Regions from separate parts of the Homo sapiens genome. Here region 2 is reported to be linked to region 1. Evidence: microRNA targets listed by miRTarBase, many of them from high-throughput screens and not tested one by one. Region 1 holds a microRNA gene; the other region holds the end of a gene's coding sequence.
Evidence for each region. Region 1 holds the annotated microRNA hsa-miR-552-5p (GUUUAACCUUUUGCCUGUUGG, at 2,519-2,539, opposite strand). A microRNA usually pairs through its seed, bases 2 to 8, with sites in the 3' UTR of a target mRNA and lowers its output. Matches are read on the target gene's strand: a 7mer-m8 pairs with bases 2 to 8, a 7mer-A1 pairs with bases 2 to 7 and ends in A, and an 8mer does both.

Region 2: the mRNA of GALNT7 is a reported target of hsa-miR-552-5p. Seed matches in the 3' UTR shown: 7mer-A1 at 2,948-2,954.

What each region holds. Positions count from the first base shown.
Region 1 is chr1:34,667,132-34,672,522 of GRCh38, forward strand. It overlaps MIR552 (microRNA 552), which reads right to left and starts at 2,563; the gene lies at 2,468-2,563. The region is part of intron 1 of LOC105378641 (a long non-coding RNA gene); the gene reads right to left.
Region 2 is chr4:173,320,682-173,326,072 of GRCh38, forward strand. It overlaps GALNT7 (polypeptide N-acetylgalactosaminyltransferase 7), which reads left to right. Exons shown (of 12, transcript NM_017423.3): 12 at 899-3,286. The coding sequence ends at 1,036. Among named protein-coding and RNA genes, the nearest start is that of HMGB2, 11 kb to the right of the region's middle.

The DNA of each region.
Region 1 (5,391 bases):
ATCCTGGTTTTACATTTCATAGTGATTGTACTTGAAATCACCACCAAAAAAAGAGCATTATGCTACAGGTGTGTCTTCTTCATCATAAATCAATCAAGGCATGAGGAGATCCAATAATAACCCTATTTATGAACAAGCAGTTCTAGCCTCACAATTACTATCACCAAACATTTCAGAATAATGAAACGTTTCCAATGAGAATTAATTTAAAAAGACCAAAATGCATGCAAACTTACTTCCATGAAACTTAAATTCAAACCATCCCATGGGTAACCAAATTATACTTGTAAAGAACTCAAATTGATTGGACTTCAAAATTCAAAATTCAATTGTAGAAAATAAAATAGGTTATAAACCGCAAAGGCCTTTGCCAAGCCATCCCCTGCTCTGAAGCACAATCCAAACATCACATGGTCACACGTCAGTGCTGCCTGCAAAGAAATCCATTTTACAAACAAACTTAGGGTAATAGGACCCAGATCTGTAATGCCTTATCCTGATTAATGACGGACCCACACACTGTTATATCCATGGTCACCAAGAGAAAAGCTAACATTCTTGGAAGCAGCATTACTCTTAAAATTGCAATAATCTCCAGGGAAAATAACCCAATTTAAACTTATTCCCTCTTTAGCTAGAATGTGTTTAACTCTTTTAAACTTGTTCTTTGCTGTTACCTGTGTCCTTCAAAGACATGCCCCTTGTTATTCTACGTAACTCCCTTCACTCAGACCTTCAATAATTGCAAAAGCAATTTAACCCCCAGTTTACCATGATACTATTAAAGAGTAAAATAGTCAGTAGCCCAAAGAAATTCTTAGGAAGCCAACACTTTCAATTGGCATGCTTTTTTTAGACCCTAAATTCATATGCATAAATATGCATTCGTTCAGTCTGTCAACCCACGTCTAGGTAATGGTTGAATAAGTTAGAGGAGCTCTCTGACGTCAGGGAACTTACATTCTAGTCAGAAGAGGCAGATACATGAATCAACAAACAAGACCATTCAGGATGCATACGCATTGATCTGAAAGTCTCTTCACTTCACTTGCCTGAGCTGAGGTGGGACCACAATCTTTGAAGAACCAAAGAAGGAGAGTTCTCAGAAGAGGTTATAGCAAGTGCAAAGGTCCTGTGGCAGGAAAGAGCTTGCCAGGCTCAGGAGGTGGAAACATACATTGCCAAATACAAATACACACACAACATATACACCAACACACACCAAAGACTTTCTACAAGGTTTCATTAAATACTGAGTGGGTACAAAAGATATTTATAAAACATGTCTGCTGTACAAAGAATAACAATAAAGGGAACATTCGTGTATCCCACCATCCAGTTTAGAAATGAAAGCGTGACCATCAAGCATGACCTCTTTGATCTGATTGCCTCTCTTCGTAACCCAGAGAAATGCTAATCTGAATTCATTCTCCAATGTTTTTTTTCTTTATCACCTTATATCCTGAACAATATATTGTTTAATACGTTTTTGATCTCTAAGACTAGAATCTTGCAGTTATGTAGGTTTGTATGGCTTGGGGTTTTTGTAGCCAAGTCAAAGCTATGATAAATTTGTTTCTGAAATTTTTGAGTGAAAGAGTTAATAATTTTTAATTAGAATTTGTTATTGAGATAATTATAAATTCATATGCAATTCTGTGTACCATTTATCCAGTTTCCCCCAGTGGTAACTGATATGGTCTGGCTGTGTCCCCACCCAAATCTCATCTTGAGTTGTAGCTCCCATAATTCCCACGTGTTGTGGGAGGGACCCAGGGGGAGATTATTGAATCACGGGGGTGGTTTCCCCCATACTGTTCTCATGGTAGTGAATAAGTCTCACAAGGTCTGATGGTTTTATAAGGGGAAACCCCTTTCACTTGGTTCTCATTTCTCTCATATCTGCCACCATGTAAGACGTGCCTTTCACCTTCTGCCATGATTGTGAGGCCTCCTCAGCCATGTGAAACTGTAAACCCATTAAACCTCTTTTCCTTTATAAACTACCCAGTCTCAGGTATGTCTTTATCAGCAGCATGAGAAGAGACTAATACAATAACATTTTTAAAACACTAGTACAATATCATAACCAGGATATTGACATGATACAGCTCACCAGTCTTACCCAGATTTCTCCAATTTACTTGTATCATTTGTGGTCTGTGTGTGTGTGTGTGTGTCCATCACTAAAGTCAAGACATCAGCCAGTCCATCACCATGAGGATCCTTCATGTTGTGCCTTTATAACCACCTCCCTCCACCTCACCACATTCTTAACCCTCAACAACCACTAATCCCTTCTCTATCTGTAACATTTGTCATTTCAAAATGTTATATAAATGTAATCATACATATGTAGCCTTTGGCATTGACTTTTTTCACTCATAATAATTCCCCAAAGATTCATCCAAGTTGTTTGTAATCAATAGCTTGTTGCTTGTTTATTGCTGAGTAGTATTCCATCCTGTGTATATACCACAGTTTGTCTAACCAGTCACCTGTTGAAAGGCATCTTCAACCAACAGGCAAAAGGTTAAACAAACTGTGGTATATTTGAATGGTTAAACAAACTGTAGTATATTCGACTATTACAAATAAAGCTGCTGTGAACACTTGGCTATTGCAAATAAAGCTCCCCAGGTTTTTGTGTGGACATAAGTTTTTATTTCCCTGGGATAAACACCTGAGGGCGCTACTGCTGGGTCATAGGCATGCTGGGTTTTATAATTAGCTGCCCTCTGTTTTCTAGGCTAGATCTACAATTTTACATCCCATCAACAATATATGAACAAGCCTATTTCTCTACATCCTTGCCAATGTTGGGTGTTCTCATTTTTTTTTTATTTTAGCAATTCTGATAGATGCATAGTGATATGTTATCATGGTTTTAATTTGCATTACCCTTATGTTGAACATATTTCATGGATTTTTTTTGCCATTTGAATAACTTACACTATGGAATATCTATTCATGTGTTTTGCCCATGTTCTAGTAGATTACTTGTTTTCTTTTTACCATTGAGTTTTGAGAGCTCTTATATAATCAAGATTCTAGTCCTTTTCAGGTGTGTGATTTGAAAATATCTTCTCCTACTCAGCAACTTGTCTATAGCTTGCTTTTTTACCCAAGATTATTGTCCTCAGTTTTATCTATGCAGATGGATTTTTTTGGTTTTGTTGCTGTATCATTCTACTATTGTTTTGTATTTTGCTGTATCATTATACTATTGATGGACATTGCTTATTGTTCTGCTTTCACAAGCCATGTTACCATGGGCTTTCTTGATGTGTCCACTGCTGCACCTATATAAGTTCTCTAAGGTATAGACCTAGTAACATTTCTGGATCACAGGGTATGTGCATTATTAATGTTATTAGATAATGCTGAATTTATGCCAAAGAAATTTCATCACTTAGAACTGCCACCAGCAGTGTAAAAGTTCCTATTACTCCATGCCTTTGCTAGCACTTGATCTTATCAGACTTTTTTTCAATTTTAACAATGTAATGGGCATATAATGATATCTATTTCATTTGTATTTCCCAAGTTACAAATAATCATACAAATAAATACAAATAGTTCCTTTACTTCCCTGGTGAAACTGAATATTCAGTCTAGACATTCAGATTTCCTGTTTCATTAAGTGTCTATTTAAGTTACTTTGCCCATTTTCGTATTGAGTTGTGTATTAGTCTGTTTTCACACTGCTATAAAGATACTACCTGAGACTGAGTAATTTATAAAGAAAGGGGTTTAATGGACTCACAGGGAAAGCCTCAGGAAACTTATAATCATGGCAGAAGGCAAAAGGGAAACAAGGCACATCTTCAAAAGGCAGTAGGAGAGGGAGAGAGAAAGAAGGAGAAAGAGCCACTTATCAAACAACCAGATCTCATGAGAATTCACTCACTACCACGAGAACAGCACGGGGGAAACTGGCCCCCTTGATCCAATCACCTCCCACCAGGTTCCTCCCTCTGTTGGCAGTGGCCGCTGCCATCATGCAGGCTGCAGCAGGGAGGCACCACCCCAGGGCTGCACACTCCGTGAGGCAGGCAGGAGCTGGTGACAAGTGGGAGCCCCACCCCTTTTGAGTTGGCAAGGCGGGAGTTCCCTAGGTGCAGCTGTGGCCACCCTCCCAAGCGCAGGACCCGAGAGTCTCTGCAGTCTTCACTCTTGGGGGCCTCAGAAGTCCCCCCCAACCCCCTGGCCCCACAGGCTCTAGAGTGTCTGCTCCTGCTGCCTGGCCTCTCCACTCCTGGCACCCTACTCCAATCTTGGAGCCAGGTTGGGGCCTATCCTGGGCACTGGCACAGCCTGGCCAGGTGTGCACATGCTTGGGGCAGTGCTGACATGCCAGTACCCTGCTACCTCGGCCTCCTCCAGAATTTGGGCAAAATGAGCATGAGAGGAGAAACTGAGGGGGAGGGCTGAGGGTGGCTTGGCACTGGCCTGCAGGTGCCTTTTGGTGCAAGCAGCCTGGGCACCATAGGCACCATGGATGGCAGCAGGAGGCAGACAGGCTCCTGGATTGAAGGGAGTGGATCCCTAGTAAGGCCCTACCTTTAGGCCAGGGATGGCCTGAAGGCTGGGGGCTGAGCAGTAAGTCCCGCAGATCAAAGTGGGGACTTGCAGTGCCTTTCAGGCCTGCCCATGGCCACCCATGGACCAACTGACACACACTTCCTCCCCTCTGACATCCGTAAAAGCCCCAGGCTCAGCTAAAGCAGGGTAGAGGATGGAGAGATGATGGGATGACCAACTTCAGAGAGGAGCTATCCTCTCTGCTGAGAGCTGGGAAGAAGAGAGGAAGACTTGCCTGTAGAGAGGAGCAACTTTCTCCAGAGCCTCCTCTCTGTTGAAAGCAGCAGACATCAGGATGACTGGCTGCAGAGAGGAGCTACCCTCTCCAGGGCCTCCTCTCTGTTGAAAGCAGCAGACATTGGGATGACCACCTGCAGAGAGGAACTACCATCTCCAGGGCCTCCTCTCTGTTGAGAGCTGAACCCCTGACAGGACAAGGATGACCAGCTGCAGAGAGGAGTTACCCTCTCTAGAGCCTCCTCTCTCTTGAGAGCTGAACCCTTAATGGGACAACCTGCCAGCAGAGAGGAGCCACAGACCCCAGGGCCTCCTCTCTGCTGAAAGCTGAACACTCAACGAGATGACCTGCCTGCAGAGAGGAGCTATCCACCACAGGTCTCTTCTGAGCATTCTAACACTCAATAAACCTCCTCTTCATCGTGTTTACCCTACACTTGTCTGTGTACCTCATTCTTCCTGGACACAGGACAAGACCTCAGCAAAGGTGCCACCAGCCACAGAGGTTTCTGGCCAATTGATACCCCAAAGATCCCTTAACACCTCAACACATAGGGATTACAATTCAGC
Region 2 (5,391 bases), not on the chromosome of region 1:
GTGGTAGTTTCTTAAAAGTTATTTCCAGTGTAGACTGATATCCTTGAGCATTGTACCTCATTATATGGAAGTACTTGATACGTACTTCCCACTTCATCTCATAGAATTTTTTTTAAGTATACTGAGGGGTCAAGACTGAATAAAACGAATGTTTTGCTCCTTCATCAGTGACATCCTTAAGTGAAACCGGCATTTACTTTTCAACTGTGTGTGGCCATGAGCAATACAACTATAGGTACTAGCATAGTTTGATTCATGCTAAGGCACCATCAGTTTTACTCACCATTGCTTTTGCACTATCGGTATAAATGTTGCTAAAGTGAAAAGGCAATGGTGTCTTCGTATTATGATGAAAATAGTTTCGGCCTTACAGACCCAATCCTGGATAGTCTGAGGACCAGACTTTGAGAAGCTCTGAGCTATATTGAAGAAACCTACAGCATATGGTGAGGGCCAAACCAGGGCATCTGCAGTGGCGATGGGAAGGAATATAAACCAGAGACATTGCACATATCCATCCTTAGTGACTGGTATGTGAGTGAATGAGGAAAAGTGCAGTATTTCCTAAGGACTAGAGAGCTGGGAATGTCATTAGCCAGGATAGGAACAAGAGACATAGATTTGGAGGGGCAGATAATGAATTTAGGTTTGTATACATTGAGTGTGAGATACCAGCAGTATATTGTGACTTAACAATGAAAGATCTTAGGACTTAGAAAACTGACAATCAAGAGAAATCCAGAAAACTGACAATCAAGAGAAATCCAAAGTCTGAGGTGTGGTTGAGAAGCTTTTCCATTTCCTTAAACTGTCTCCTCATGAAAGTCAAGTGATGATTTCTGATGTCAGTGATATCAAGGGTCCAAATTTGAAACTTTTTTCTTACTGTGTTTTCCAGAACCTGCACAGATTTACTCATATTCCTTCAGGAAAGTGTTTAGATCGCTCAGAGGTCCTGCATCAAGTATTCATCTCCAATTGTGACTCCAGTAAAACGACTCAAAAATGGGAAATGAATAACATCCATAGTGTTTAGAGAGAAAAAAATAAACCAATAACCTACCTACTGACAAGTAAATTTATACAGGACTGAAAACCGCCTGAAACCTGCTGCAACTATTGTTATTAACTCTGTATAGCTCCAAACCTGGAACCTCCTGATCAGTTTGAAGGACATTGATAAACTGTGATTTTACAATAACATTATCATCTGCAGTTACTGTTTACAAGACTGCTTTTACCTTAAACTTTGTAGATGTTTACATCTTTTTGTTGTGTTTTAAGATGATGTTGGTAATTTGTGCCTTTAGCTCTGTTTTATTAGACAGAGTTAAAGCATGTTGTCTTCTTTGGGATTACACTCAGGGGTCTGAAAGGCAGTTTGATTTTTATTTTTAACACACTTGAAAAAAGGTTGGAGTAGCCAGACTTTCATATATAACTTGGTGATTATCAACCTGTTGTGTCTTTATTTAATTTTACATCTTTTTGAAGCACTGCCACAGGTTATTAGCCAAGGTGGCCTTCCTTCACAGTCATGCTGCTTTTTTGAAAGGTGAATTTCAACACATTTAGTGCCTCTTTCATTTCTCAGTATATATTTCAAGAGCTTGTGATGAAATCTATAGGATGGTAATGATGGACTTGTCACCTGTATGGGGAATACTTTTACTACTCAGAAATGAATTTATGTGCTGCCATTTGCTATAAAGTTGAACTTTGTATGGCTTGAAAAAGAAATGACAATATGGAACATCCCAAGGCTGTCCCATAGGGTTGGAAGTTGTGTAGCATTCACTCCCTTACCTACTGGCATTCCCAGTGCCCTCTGTCCATACCTACTTCTAGGATTGCAAAGGAGTCTTCCAACTAGAGAAAAATTGTCCACTGACATTTGGGATTTACTTTTCTCCAATACCTGCCAATACAGAAAACTATTATCAGTTGTTATTGTTATCCCTTGAAAGCGAGGGTGACAAAAACAACAAAACACCGTTATAAACACATCAAAGGTTCATTCTGACTGAGGTAAGACTTTCCAAGCCCTTGTTAGATTAGGCCTTATAAAACTTGTGTGCATTATAACCTAAGCTGTGCAACCTGTGAAGCCAAGAGTGAACTGATGTTTCATTTATATTTTCATCCAAATGACATTATCTGCACGTTTTTAAAATTTAAAAACAAAGGACTATTTAAAAATACAGTTTATTAACAAACGTGAACTACTTTCTGTTACATTAGGTGTTCCCTAGTGTTTCTTAATTTCTTTTTAGAAAGTGTATTTTTATTAGTATTTTTCCGGTGAACAGAAGATTTGTTTGGATTTAAACATTTACTAAGACAGTACCTATTAGGAAAACCAAATATTGCAAATGGTCAATTCGATTTTAATTTCTCAAAAGATACTCTGTTATCCAGAAGATTAAAATGCCTACATTGAGTGCTTAAAAAAAAAAAAACAACTGTGATGATGTGAGCAGAATGGCAAGTAAGTTAAGCATTTTTGATCCTGTAATCATGGTATCATTACAATGAAAGGAATTCACAAACTACTGCCAGAGGAAGTTTGTTTTTTAATTTAAGAGGGAAATATAACCTATAAATTTGTTTCTTCCAAGCTTAGCTCTTAAATTTGGAGACTCAAAGTTAAACATCCTCAACAGAGTTTTATTTATAATTTTGAATTGTCAATTTGTATTTTGCTACTGATCTGTGATCAACCATTTTAACTTTCATCTCTAGGGATGTTTAACATTTATAATTGCAAAATAAACCAACTATAAAAAAAGAAACTAAGAGAGAATTGGTACTTTAATTACTTGTGTGTTTGCAAATAGGCTCCATTTTCCATGTTGAGTAGATTATAACCTTATTAACTATGCATAGGCCTAAGAAAGGTGGCAATGAACTGTGCATGTAAATTTTAAATGGGTACTTTGTGCAATTCGTTAAAAGAAGATACTCTATGAATATGATTCTATATATTGAAATCAGAAAACCTACCAAACAAAAACATCAGAAGCTGCTGCCATAATGACTATTTTCTACTGTAGGCTGCTTTGGAAATAATTCCCATATCCTTGCTTTGTAAGTTGGTAATATCACTATGCATTTCTACACATTTTATAAATTTGATTTATGCAGATTTTGATACACTGTATGTTTCTGTAGAAATTGTATAAATATTCAAAATTTTATTAGGATAAATTTGAGAAACTTACGTATATCTTAATTCTGGGTTGCTTGTTTTTTAGGTGACAAAAATAAAATATTGTATTTTAATTCATGGGTTTTTTTGGTGCTTGTAATCATTTCAAATCTAAACACTGCACATTTGAAAGAATTACTTGATTTTACTATTTACAAGACACACAATACCTAAAATATTATAGACCATAGTTATTAGTTGAGTATGTGCTTGACTGTTGCTTAGCATTCTGTTACACATGCTTAGAATACTCAGAGCTTATGTATCTGTTGGAAGGAAACAAAGGTTTATTTTTACCTGTTTGCCTATGTATACCAATTTTTTAAGTTTATACTTTTTTTAATTATAAAAAATTACCCCAGCAACATATATCCTTCTTGGCTGTATATAGAATTGCCTTCTTGGCTGTACTATAGAATTGCCTATTAGAAGCAAACATGCCTTCAAATCAAATTTGTTTACAACCTGACAGATCAGGTTAAGTGGAGAAAAATGAAGAGAAGGGAAGCCTACCACAATGAAATTAGAAATAGTCCATAGCACCTTGTACAAAACACATCTCAAGAGAAGATACGGTTGCTAACAGATTCAAGTAAGTGGCTGTATTGATTTGGGAAACTTTCTCTCAACTGACCTGTCTATTGTCATATCTCCCAATTCTTAGCTGCTGTAGAAGTAGGCTAAGAAATTTGAAAAAGTGACAGCACCAGACTAGAATAAATGGGAGTTTCTTTATTTCTTAAGTTTCTCATAGGGATCTTGGAATATATTTCATTTCTGGACATAATTGGGAAAAAAATCCATATATAATTCAATGGAAAACATGACAAGTACCTCACCAGAAAGCCAGATACCTAATAGGCCAATAGTTTAGGTACGTGAAAATTATTCCATGTGAAAGCACTTTAAGAAGTGTTGAGCATTATGAAACTGTGATGTGATAAGTGCATCTTGAAGAATATCTAAGATATTGTATCCTTCAAATTACCTTTAAATGAAATTTCTCTTGGGCTTTTGGTTTGAGCAAATAAACCACAGCTGTATTAAGAATTAACTAACCGAAACAAAACTAAATATTTGAATAGAAAATAGGGATGAATAGACTTCCACTTCCGGCTATAATTTTAAGTGGACTTATCTTGCTACCCCAAACAACAGTTAATGCTGGACAAAATATATGAAGCAACTGTTTTCAGGAATTGGATACTAGTCAAAGCAGACTGATATCTAAAAGAAAGGAAATACACAAGGTGAATCCCAGGTTCACCATGTCTGTCTCCATGGGAGGACATTCCCAACCATGGTGCAAGGAATGCGGCTCAGAATGGTGGTATTGCTGAACTGAGGAGGCGGAGTGGAGGTTTCCGGCTGCTGAAACAGCTAGAATCTACAATCCAGGTTATTGGAGGGGAAGTACGCTTGAGTGTCAGGAGAGCTATACAGGAATTTTTATACCACAGCCATTTGCAATAGCGAAAACCCTGGAAGCAACCTAAATGCCCATTGACAGGAGAAAGGATGAATTGTGATATAATCACACAATGGAATATTACAGAGATGAATATGAATAAACTAGTTGTTATAAACAAGTTTTAGGTGTACAGGATTGAATGAAAAAGGCACTTCCCAAAACACTTTATTCAGCACTTTTTATCAATCTCAAAAGTGACTAAAAGTAAACATACAGTATGTTAATACATTTATACATGATAGGTTAAATAACTTGTCCAAGTTCACAAATTTAGTACTGGGGTCAAGGACATAATCAAGTCCAGTACTCAATATCCCTCTAACTCTGTGGGATGAATATTTATTTGGTGCCAGGAAAAACTCTCCTAAAGAATGTATGTTTTCCACATAACTTCTTTAATTTTCCTCTCTACCTAGACTATCAAGAACCTCAGGGCTGGAACAGTGGCTCACACCTGTAATCGCAGCACTTTGGGAGGCCAAGGGGAGAGGACTGCTTGAGTCCAGGAGTTTAAGACCTGCCTGGGCAACATAGCCATGTGTGGTGGCACACATCTGTGGTCCCAGCTGCTTGAGAGGCTGAGGCAGAAGAATCGCTTGAGTCTGGAAGGTGAAGGCTGCAGTGAGCTAGAACTTTATCTAATACTCCATCGTAGTATCTGTATTAACCCATGTATATCGGCATATATACTTTTAGCTAATATTTATCGAGC